Linked DNA regions of Homo sapiens: region 1 is linked to region 2. Evidence: fine-mapped QTL for protein levels in blood plasma. A gene starts in region 2. The other region holds a variant in brackets. All regions are shown on one strand. Distances are from middle to middle.

Evidence for each region. A credible set is the group of variants that fine-mapping cannot tell apart. PIP is the chance, under the fine-mapping model, that this variant and not a neighbour inherited with it causes the effect. The UK Biobank Pharma Proteomics Project read protein levels with antibody pairs (Olink). The fine-mapping took linkage between variants from a reference panel, not from the people measured, so its PIPs are less certain.
Region 1: its variant is the best candidate, but not a certain one, in a credible set for the plasma level of the TNFRSF12A protein (UK Biobank, PIP 0.67).

What each region holds. Positions count from the first base shown.
Region 1 is chr16:2,980,135-2,985,493 of GRCh38, forward strand. PKMYT1 (protein kinase, membrane associated tyrosine/threonine 1) reads right to left here and starts at 312. Exons shown (of 9, transcript NM_004203.5): 1 at 152-312. RefSeq lists enhancers at 1-754, 755-1,631, 2,676-3,177 and silencers at 46-275, 286-645, 3,298-3,347, 3,588-3,647, 3,602-3,788. The variant TA/T (reference allele first, on the strand shown) is at 2,181.
Region 2 is chr16:3,017,974-3,023,332 of GRCh38, forward strand. It overlaps TNFRSF12A (TNF receptor superfamily member 12A), which reads left to right and starts at 2,395. Exons shown (of 4, transcript NM_016639.3): 1 at 2,395-2,518; 2 at 3,242-3,346; 3 at 3,582-3,716; 4 at 3,798-4,410. The coding sequence starts at 2,425. The coding sequence ends at 3,853. It overlaps CLDN6 (claudin 6), which reads right to left and starts at 210. Exons shown (of 2, transcript NM_021195.5): 1 at 176-210. It overlaps HCFC1R1 (host cell factor C1 regulator 1), which reads right to left. Exons shown (of 4, transcript NM_017885.4): 3 at 5,260-5,359; 4 at 4,652-5,025. The coding sequence ends at 4,890. RefSeq lists enhancers at 1-211, 809-1,404, 2,173-2,817, 2,724-3,923, 3,463-4,106 and 1 more and silencers at 2,244-2,463, 3,314-3,483.

The DNA of each region.
Region 1 (5,359 bases), 38 kb before region 2:
CGGGAGGCAGGGGCTCGCGGGGGCGGGCCTGAGGGGACGCGAGCGGGCCGCCGGGGAGGCCTGAGGGGCAGGGGTAACGCAGACCTGGCGAGGCGGAGGGGAGCGGCGAGGTGGCCACGCCGAGGCCCCTCACGGCGGGGTCTGGGCTCACCTGGGGCGACTGGGCGGGGCGCGGGTCCGCGAGGGCCCAGATTCCGGGTCCGCGGAGGCCACGGGACCCCTCGGGTGGCTCAGCGGGCCGGAGTCTGCCGTCGACTGTTCCGGACGCCCGGGCGGAGGACTCCCGTGAGGGGGAACGGCCCGTGAACGCGCGCGGAGCTGCTCGCGCCAAAAATTCCAAACCGGCCTCGAGGCTCCTCCCCCTCCCCAGTGCAGCCCGTCAGGGGTGCCCGGGCTCCGAGGCTCCGCCCCTCGTGCTGCGTGCGCGCCGCCGAGCCGCCCCGCCGCTCACTGCGCAGGCGCACAGGATTCTCCGCGCTGGCCCGGGGCGTGGGTGGCGGCCTGGTTCTGAGTCGCTGCGCGGGGCTTCAGCCGCCCAGTCCCTGGGACGCCCACTGCCCTCCAGGCCTCGCACCCGACACCCACCGCCCTCGCTGGGCTGGCGTAGTGTTTGGGTCCATAAAAGGGACCGCCATCCCGGTGCTCGGAGCAGGCGTAGCCCCAGGGTTACTCCGGGTAGGACCAGGAAGTCCCTACGGCCTCCTGGGTCCCGGCACCCCCCTTCTCACTCCGGCCGTGTTCTGAACCAGGGTCGCGGTGGGAGGCCAGACGCACGACCCCCAACCCCTAGCGCACGGCTTCGGGAGCCAGAAAAAGCCGCCTCTTCCAGGAAGCTCTCCAGATAGGCAGGACTCTGCTTGGCCTGACCTCGCCTGCCTGCAGCTTCCCTGCCAACAGGCCTCAGATACTTTTTTTTTTTTTTTTAGACAGGGTCTCACTGTCACCAAGGCTGGAATGCAGTGGTGCAGTCCCCAGGTTCAGGCGGTTCTCCCAACCTCAGCCTGCCGAGTATGTGAGATCACAGGCGCGCGCCACCGCACTCGGCTCATGTATTTTATTTTTAGACAGGGTCTCATTCTGTTGTCCAGGCTGGAGTGCAGTGGGGCGATCTCGACTCACTGTAACTTCCGCCTCCCCCGCTCAAGCGTTCCTCCCACCTCAGCCTCCTGAGTAGCTGGGACCACAGGCGCGCGCCACCACACCCAACTAATTTTTGCATTTTTTTGTAGAGACGGTGTTTTACCATGTTGGCCAAGCTAGTGTCGAACTTCTGACCTCAAGCGATCCGCCCGCCTCGGCCTCCCAGAAGGCTGGGATTACAGGCGTGAGCCACCGCGATTGGCCGCAGGATCATAGTTCACTGCAGCCTCGAGCAGCCACTTCCGGGGCAGCTCCTCCATTCTCTGAGTTTGAGACTTGCTCTCAGCTCAGATCCCTTCAGCGCTCTCCTGGCTGAACGACCTTGGGAATGCACTGAGCCTTTCTGAGCTTCGGATTAGTCTCCTCTCCTGGAAAAAAAAAAACAGCTGAGGACGCTGGGATGATCCCCTAAAGTGATTAGCAGGGGCCCTCGCGGAGCAAGTCGGGCTAGGGATTGTTCCTTCCCTCACCGAGGGGCTCTTTATCTGTTTAACTGGGTGGGAGGAGTACGCTTCCGGCCAACCCTCCCCCAAACGCTGGCCTTCTCACTCTCACCTCTCCTTCCGCCTTATTTTTGCTATTGCCCTGATCTCTGTCCGATGTTCTATCTTTTGTTTGTGAGTTTACTTGTTGACTACCTGCTCCTTCTAGCCCTGGCCTCCAGAACCAGTCCCCCAAACCCTCCATCCTCCCCAAGTCTCTGACAGGTCATGGACTGCAAAGCTTCCCACCCATTCAGTTCCTGCACCCTCTGTAAACGTTCTGTGCATGGAGCAGCAGTGTGGGGGAGGAGAGGCTGGGATCCTGGCTGGGGGCGGCAGCCCACCTGCCTGCACCTTTCCTTGTCCTTCGCATCTCTGGCGGCTGTGCCCCAGTGACTCAGGCAGGATCCTTGTTGATGACTCCAGACTGGCCCCCAGGAGGCCTGGGGCACACACAGGCCCCTCCCCAGCTGCCTAGGGCTACCTCTGCCAGCCCCATCTCCCCAACAGGTCCCCTTCCAACCGCCCATTTTTTAAAGTCTGATTCACAATGATAAT[TA/T]AAAAAAAAAAAAAAAAAGCATGGAAACACATGCTTCCGATGTAAATTTCACTGTGTGAGGAAAGGCTGTAATATAAATATATGTAAATGGAAATAAGTAGATGGAGCAGATAAGTGCGTGGTGTGAGGGAAACTAGGGCTGCGATCCTGCCTGCCCCAGTTTCTGCGTGTGTAAAATGGGGATAAAAATAATAGTTTTCTAGACTAGGCAACATAGCAAGGCCCTGTCTCAAGAAAGAAAAAAGAAAGAAAAGGAAGGGAAGAAAGGGAAAGAAAAAGAGAAAGAAAGAAAGGAAAGGAAAGGAAGGAAGGAAAGAAAGGGAGAGAAAAAAAGAAAAGAAAGAAGAAATAAAGCAGTGAGGCACAGTGGTACACACCTGTAGTCCCAGCTCCTCAGGAGGCTGGAGTAGGAGGATCACTTGATCCCTGGAGTTAAAGGCCGCAGTGAGGGCCGGGTGCAGTGGCTCATGCTGGTAACCCCAGCAGTTTGGGAGGCTGAGGCAGGTGGATCACTTGAGCTCAGGAGTTCGAGACCAGGCTGGCCAATATGGTGAAACCCCTTCTCTACTAAAAATACAAAAATTAGCTGGGTGTGATGGCAGGCGCTTGTAATCCCAGCTACTCGGGAGGCTGAGGCAGAATTGCTTGAACCTGGGAGGCAGAGGTTGCAGTGAGCCCACATCGCACCACTGCACTCCAACCTGGGTGACAAGAGCGAGACTCTGTCTCAAAAAAAAAAAAAAAAAAAAAGGCTGCAGTGAGCCTGGGCAACAGAGTGAGACCCTGTAAAAAATATAAAGTGATAATAATAGTAGTTCCTCCTTCCTCGGGGAGTATGAGCACCACATGAGAAAATGCCTGTGAAGTGCTTAGCACAGAGCCGAACACACAGTAGGGGCTTACTCATTGTTTCAGAATAACAGGCTGGGCGAGGTGGTCACGCCTGTAATCCCAGCAATTTGGCAGGCTGAGGCGGGCAGGTCACTTGAGCTCAGAAGTTAGAGACCAGCCTGGGCAATATGGCAAAACCCTGTCTCTACAAAACATTCAAAAATTAGCTGGGCATGGTGGTGTGTACCTGTGCTCCCAGCTAGTCAAGAGGGTGAGGTGGGAGGATCGCTTGAGCCCAGGAGGTGGATGCTGCAGTGTGCCGAGATGGCGCCACTGCACTCCAGCCTGGGCGACAGAGCGAGACTCGGTCTCAAATTAATAATAATAATAATAATAATAATAATAATAATAATAATAATAAAATAGTAAGACCCCCTCATCTGTACAGTCTGTTGCAGTTTTCAACGCTGCAGTCTGGGCCAAAAAGAGGCCCCAGGAGGAAAGAAGCCCGGACTCCTCTAACCACCTTGGGGTCACAGGGACCGAGGCACGGGCCCACAGGGTTCCGGACCAAAGCGCTTTGCCGACCTCCTTCCAGGAGGAATCCTCCCAGCCGCCGCCCAGGCACCCGGTTCCCGCGAGTCCCACCCGCGCGACCAGGCGCGGGCCGCGCGCGCCCCCGTGTGTCCCGTCGCCGCCACAGCACCCGCGGCTCCGCCCAGACTCTCCAAGGAAGACTCACTCATGCGGTTTCGGCCACAAAAGGAAAGGCGAGGCCGGGCGCGGTGGCTCACGCCTGTAATCCTAGCACTTTGGGTGGCCGAGACGAGCGGATCACCTGAGGTCAGGAGTTTGAGACCAGCCTGGCTAACATGGTGAAACGCCGATTCTACTAAAAACACAAAAATTAGCCAGGCGTGGTGTCGGGCGCCTGTAATCCCAGTTACACAGGAGGCTGAGGCAGGAGAATCGCTTGAACCCGGGAGGCGGAGGTTGCAGTGAGCCGAGATGGCGCGACTGCACTCCAGCCTGGGCGACAAGAGCAAGACTCCGTCTCAAAAGAAAAAAAGCGAGGGAATGACGACCACAAGTGCAAACGTGGCTATCCTAATGGGAGGAAGGGGACTGTGATGGGTGCTTCTGCGGAACTGGCTATGTTCTACTTCTTGACCCAGGTGCTGGGTGCATAGGGGTTTGTCTCATAAGTACGATAGCTGCACGGCACATTCACATCTCATGTGTGCTAATCTTTGCATGCTATGTTTCACACTTGAATAAGGTTTTTTATTTTATTTATTTATTTATTTATTTATTTTCAGACGGAGCCTTGCTCTGTTGCCAGGCTGGAGTACAGTGGCGCGATCTCGGCTCACTGCAACCTCCACCTCCCGGGTTAAGCGATTCTCCGGCCTCAGCCTCCCGAGTAGCTGGGATTACAGGCGCACACCACTATGCCCAGCTGATTTTTTTATTTTTAGTAGAGACAGAGTTTCACCACGTTGGCCAGGATGGTCTCAATCGCTTGACCTGGTGATCCACCCGCCTCGGCCTCCCAAAGTGCTGGGATTACAGGCGTGAGCCACCGCGCCCAGCCTGTGTTTTGATTATTTTTGAGACAGGGTCTCACTCTGTTGCCCAGGCAATAGTATGATCACGATTCACTGCAGCCTCAACCTCCCAAGCTCAAGTGATTCTCCCACCTCAGCCTCCCAAGTAGCTGGAACCACGGGGGTGCACCACCCAACCCTGGCTAATTTTTAATTTCTTGTAGAGACGGGGGTCTCATTATGTTGCCCAGGCTGGTCTCGAGCTCCTGGGCTCAAACAATCCTCCTGCCTCGGCCTCCTGAAGTACTGGAATTATAGGCATGAGCACTGTGCCTGGCCACACTTGCATAAGGCTTTTATTTTTCTGACACTACACCAAAGGAATTGCATAAGGTTTGGTTTTGTTTTGTTTTGTTTTAAGACGGAGTTTCACTCCTGTTGCCCAGGCTGGAGTGCAGTGGTGCGATCTCGGCTCACCGCAACCTCCACCTCCCGGGTTCAAGCAATTATCCTGCCTCAGCCTCCAGAGTAGCTGGGATTACAGGCATGTGCCACCACGCCCGGCTAATTTTGTATTTTTAGTAGAGACAGGTTTTCTCCATGTGGTCAGGCTGGTCTTGAACTACCGGCCTCAGGTGATCACCCCACCTCGGCCTCCCAACGTGCTGGGATTACAGGCATGAGCCACTGCACCAGGCCTGCATAACGTTTTAACAAACTGGCAGATGGGTGGGGAGAAGGAGTTTGTAGAGGTCACCTTTGCTGGTGTGAGTTGCCTTGGGATGCCTAGGAAGGTATAC
Region 2 (5,359 bases):
CCCGAAGGACCCTATCACCTCGGAGGCTTGGGCGCGGACCGGCCGACCCCCTCAGGGACTCGCCCATCCAGGTGGCCGCAGCCCGAGTTCGCACGCACCCCTACCCACGCCGCCACCACCCTGCACCCGGCCCCAAGAGGCGTCTCTCCAACACGCACACTAGCCCCGGACTCACCTGCGAAGGAGATAAGGGAAATTCCTAGGCCGAGTGTCGGGACAGGGGCGGAGGCGGGGGTCTTAAAGAAGCGGTGACGTCACTGGACCACCGCCCCGGAGGAGGGGCAGAGACCCTGTCCCTGACGGCAGCGGGCGTGCGAATCCCAGGCTTGTCAGAGGGGGGCGCTGGAGGCTGGGGTCGCTGGGCCCGCCTCGGGCTGGCAGACGTCCAGACTCACCCAGGGTGAGGGCGCCAGGCTTAGGGTAGAACAGAGCTTGAGACTCCGCTTCACCACTTAAGCAGCGCGGTGACATGGGGAACTCACCTAACCTTCCCGAGCCTTCGTTTCCTACTCTGCAAAATGGAGATAACAAGTCTGCATTTTATTATGTAACTACGTCCTAAGGTACAAATTAAAGGGCATACTATTGGTATTATTTTAGAGAAATATTTTCACTGTGTCACCCAGGCTGGAGTGCAGTGGTGCGATCACGGCTCACTGCAGTCTCGACCTTCTGGGCTCAAGCGATCCTCCCGCCTCAGCCTCCTGAGTAGCTGGGACTACAGGCAGCACACGCCACCGTGCCCAGCTAATTTATGTTTTGTTTTGTATAGACAGGGTCTTGTTATATTGCCCAGGCGTCTCGAACTCCCGGACTCAAGCGATCCGCCCGCCTTGGCCTCGCACTGCGCTGGGATTACCGGCTTAAGCCACCGCGCCCGGCCAGATAATATTATTTTTATGTTGCTGGTTTTTTGTTGTTGTTGTTGTTTGTTTTTGAGATGGAGTCTCGCTCTCTCGCCAAGGCTGGAGTGTGGTGGCGCGATCTTGGCTCACTGCAAGCTCTGCCTTCCGGGTTCACGCCATTCACCTGCCTCAGCCTCCAGAGTAGCTGGGACTACTACAGGTGCCCGCCACCACCCCCGACTAATTTTTTTGTATTTTTAGTAGAGACGGGGTTTCACCGTGTTAGCCAGGATGGCCTCGATTTCCTGACCTCGTGATCTGCCCGCCTCGGCCTCCCAATGTGCTGGGATTACAGGCGTGAGCCACCGCGCCCGGCCTGTTTTGTTTTTTGAGATGGAGGCCCTCTCTGTCGCCCAGTCTGGAGTGCAATGGCGCTATCTCGACTGACTGCAACCTCCGTCTCCCAGGTTCCAGAAATTCTCCTGCCTCAGTCTCCCGAGTAGCTGAGATTACAGGCGCCCACTACCACGCCCGGCTAACTTCTTTCTTTTTTTTATTTTTAGTAAAGACGGGGGTTCACCAAGTTGGCCAGGCTGGTCTCGAGCTCCTGACCTCAGGTTTAATTGTTATACCCCCCGGGCCCTTAACAAAGCTGTAGTGGCCAGGCTAACCTGGGCAACATAGTAAGACCCTGGTCTCTACAAAAAATACAAAAATTAGCCGGACGTGGTGGGGCAGGGCCTGTGGTCCCAGCTACTTGGGAGGCTGAGGTGGGAGGCTCACCTGAGCCCAGAGAGCCGTGATCGTACCACTGCACTCCAGGCTGAGCAAGAGTGAGACGCAATCTCAAGGGGAGGTGGGGGGAAGGAAGCTGCAGTGATCTCTGCATGGATTGGTCGTGTGTCTGATTTCTTTTTATTGTTTGTTTGTTTGTTTATTTATTTATTTATTTATTTATTTATTTATTTGAGACGGACTCTCACTCTGTCGCCCAGGCTGGAGTGTAGTGGCGCGATCTCGGCTCACTGCAACTTCTGCCTCCCGGGTTCAAGAGATTCTCCTGCCTCAGCCTCCTGAGTAGCTCGGATTGCAGGCGCGCGCCACCACGCCCGGCTAATTTTTGTATTTCGAGTAGAGACGGCGTTTCACCACGTTGGTCAGGCTGCTCTCGAACTCCTGACCTCGTAATCCGCCTGCCTCAGACTCCCAAACTGATGGGATTAAAGGCGTGAGCCACCGCGTCCGGCCGTTCGTGTCTGATTTCTATATGTGCTGCCGAAGCGAGCACTCGTGTCTAATTTTTGATTTCCCCACACCACGCACGCTGGACTAGATCACCGGCTGGGCAAGGAAGGGGGTCTGCGTCCCTGCGGGGTCCTGGCAGCTCCCGCGCCAGGACTTTGTTGAATGAATGACTGAACTGAGCGGGCGCCGCGGGGCGGGGCGTCCCGAAGCGGACCTCAAGGCGGGCGGAGGCGAGAGCTCCGCCCCGGAAGGCGGGGGCGGGGGCGGGGCGGCGGCCGTGGGTCCCTGCCGGCCGGCGGCGGGCGCAGACAGCGGCGGGCGCAGGACGTGCACTATGGCTCGGGGCTCGCTGCGCCGGTTGCTGCGGCTCCTCGTGCTGGGGCTCTGGCTGGCGTTGCTGCGCTCCGTGGCCGGGGAGCAAGCGCCAGGTACGCGGGACTCCGGGGTCGGGGAACCCCGGGCCGGGGCTCGGGAGCCGGACTGGGTGTCTGGAGAACAGCGCCGAACTGGGGGAACAGGCGGATGTGGGGATCTGGGGTCAGGTGGCCTTCAAACAGCTCGCTCCCGGCTGTGGGAAGTTCCATCACTCTCCAAGCTTCATTCACAATCCGGGCCTCAGTTTCTCCCACCGTCCAATTGGGGTTGGGGGGGGTCTTCAGTTCCACAAGTCCGAAGTACTTCGAATGGAGAGAGAAAGTGAGTGAGGGCGGGATGTTTAGTCTAGGAAGGGGCACGCCCCCAGCCTGGTCCGTACAGGGTCTAACTAGCCCCAGTGATCGACGAGTTGGGGAGGCCGTCGAGAGGCACTAGGGTCTGTGCCCTCTATACCATGTGGGGTGCCCCCTTCCATCCGGTGACTTCAGTGCCCAGCTATGCGGGGGGAGGGACTGGGGTCGGGCCCGGTGCCCAGGAGTGAGTCACCCGCCGGCGGCAGGGGGGTTGTGGGGACCTGACCCCCCCCACCCCCAGCGTCCCGCGCTACGCCCTCCCTCCCGGAGCTGCCGTGTCCCGGTCGGGCCGTGCGGTCACCTGTGAGGAATGCGCGGGGAGGGCGCCGGTGACTCACGTTATTCGAGCCGGCCGACCCTGACCTCAGACCCCAGAATAGCCGAGTCCCGCCCCCAGCCTCTGACCCGAGGCCCCCTCCCCAGGCACCGCCCCCTGCTCCCGCGGCAGCTCCTGGAGCGCGGACCTGGACAAGTGCATGGACTGCGCGTCTTGCAGGGCGCGACCGCACAGCGACTTCTGCCTGGGCTGTGAGTGGGGGGCAGGGCCAGTGGCCAGCGGACCCCAGACTGGGAGGGAGGGTGGCTGGTGCGCAGAGCGGGGCCGAGAGCTTTGCATCTGGGAAATCATTCGGGAGGAGGTGGGAGCTGGGAGGGGGCTCCGGTCAGGGAGGAGGCCACGTTTGGGAGAAGGCAGAAGGCTCAGTCTTAGGGGGCGGGGCTGGCCTGGAGAGGGGCGAGGTCTGACTCCGAGTCCCGCCCCCAGGCGCTGCAGCACCTCCTGCCCCCTTCCGGCTGCTTTGGCCCATCCTTGGGGGCGCTCTGAGCCTGACCTTCGTGCTGGGGCTGCTTTCTGGCTTTTTGGTCTGGAGACGATGCCGCAGGAGAGAGAAGTTCACCAGTAAGTGTGCCCTGGCCTGCCCAGCCCTGTCAGCACTCGACCTTTTCTCTGCTGCTGACGACCCCACCTCTTATCTTGCAGCCCCCATAGAGGAGACCGGCGGAGAGGGCTGCCCAGCTGTGGCGCTGATCCAGTGACAATGTGCCCCCTGCCAGCCGGGGCTCGCCCACTCATCATTCATTCATCCATTCTAGAGCCAGTCTCTGCCTCCCAGACGCGGCGGGAGCCAAGCTCCTCCAACCACAAGGGGGGTGGGGGGCGGTGAATCACCTCTGAGGCCTGGGCCCAGGGTTCAGGGGAACCTTCCAAGGTGTCTGGTTGCCCTGCCTCTGGCTCCAGAACAGAAAGGGAGCCTCACGCTGGCTCACACAAAACAGCTGACACTGACTAAGGAACTGCAGCATTTGCACAGGGGAGGGGGGTGCCCTCCTTCCTAGAGGCCCTGGGGGCCAGGCTGACTTGGGGGGCAGACTTGACACTAGGCCCCACTCACTCAGATGTCCTGAAATTCCACCACGGGGGTCACCCTGGGGGGTTAGGGACCTATTTTTAACACTAGGGGGCTGGCCCACTAGGAGGGCTGGCCCTAAGATACAGACCCCCCCAACTCCCCAAAGCGGGGAGGAGATATTTATTTTGGGGAGAGTTTGGAGGGGAGGGAGAATTTATTAATAAAAGAATCTTTAACTTTAAATGGTTTGGAGAGGCAGTGATCCCCGACTGACTCCCCTGAGCTGGAGGGAGGGAGTGAGTCAGCCAGCCGCGGGGGCGGGGGTGAGGCTCTGACTCACACATTCTCAATGCCTGGAACTCAGCCGGCAAGGACCTGGCTGGCCCTAACAGTTTTCCAGGGAAGATCTTGAGGAGAAACCCCAGCATCCCGCGCCTCTGCCCTCTCCACCATCCCCAAAAGCCCCAGGTTCCAGACTGAAGCCTTCCTTTGCTCAGCAATCTTTATTCAGTTCTTCTTGGGGGTGGGATGCCTCCCTTCCCATGCTCCCACCCCTCCCATCCCAGAACTCCGTTGGGCTCAGTGTCCTCTGTTGAGGGAAGGTCTTGGTGCCCAGATGCCTACTCTGCAGGAGAGGGAGGAACCTTGTCCCTTTGCGGGAGTCGCTGGTCTCTTCTGTTGTGGGGAAGAAGGAAGGTGGGAGGGGCACTGTCCACCAGCACTCAGAGCTCCATTATGTCCCCAGCTGGGGTTGCAGGGTAGGGGGGACTGGGGGTGTCCCCCAGCCTCAGCAGACGGAGGGCCTCAGGGATGAGGCTGCCAGGATAGCGCCAGAGAAGCAGCTCAGAGCAAGGGCTCCTAGAAGAGGAAATGACTGTCAGGGCATGGAGCTGAGGCTGGCCTAGCTGAGCACCTCCCACCAGGTCCAGGTCCCCAGGGGCTCCTGGGTTCCCAGCACTTTCCAAAGAGCCAAGATGGGAAACAACCCAGAGGTCAGCTAGAGCTAAAAATGGCACGATGAGGCAGGGCCTGAGGTCAGCTGTGAGGACCGCCTGTGATTCTGCAGAAGGCCTGGCCAGTGGAGGAACCTACCTGAGTGGGGGCAGGGCTGGGGAGAAGGTCATGGGGGGGCTGCAGTAGGGGTGGTCATTGTGCAGGCTGAGTTGAGAGAAGTGGGTGGCCATGTTCTCCT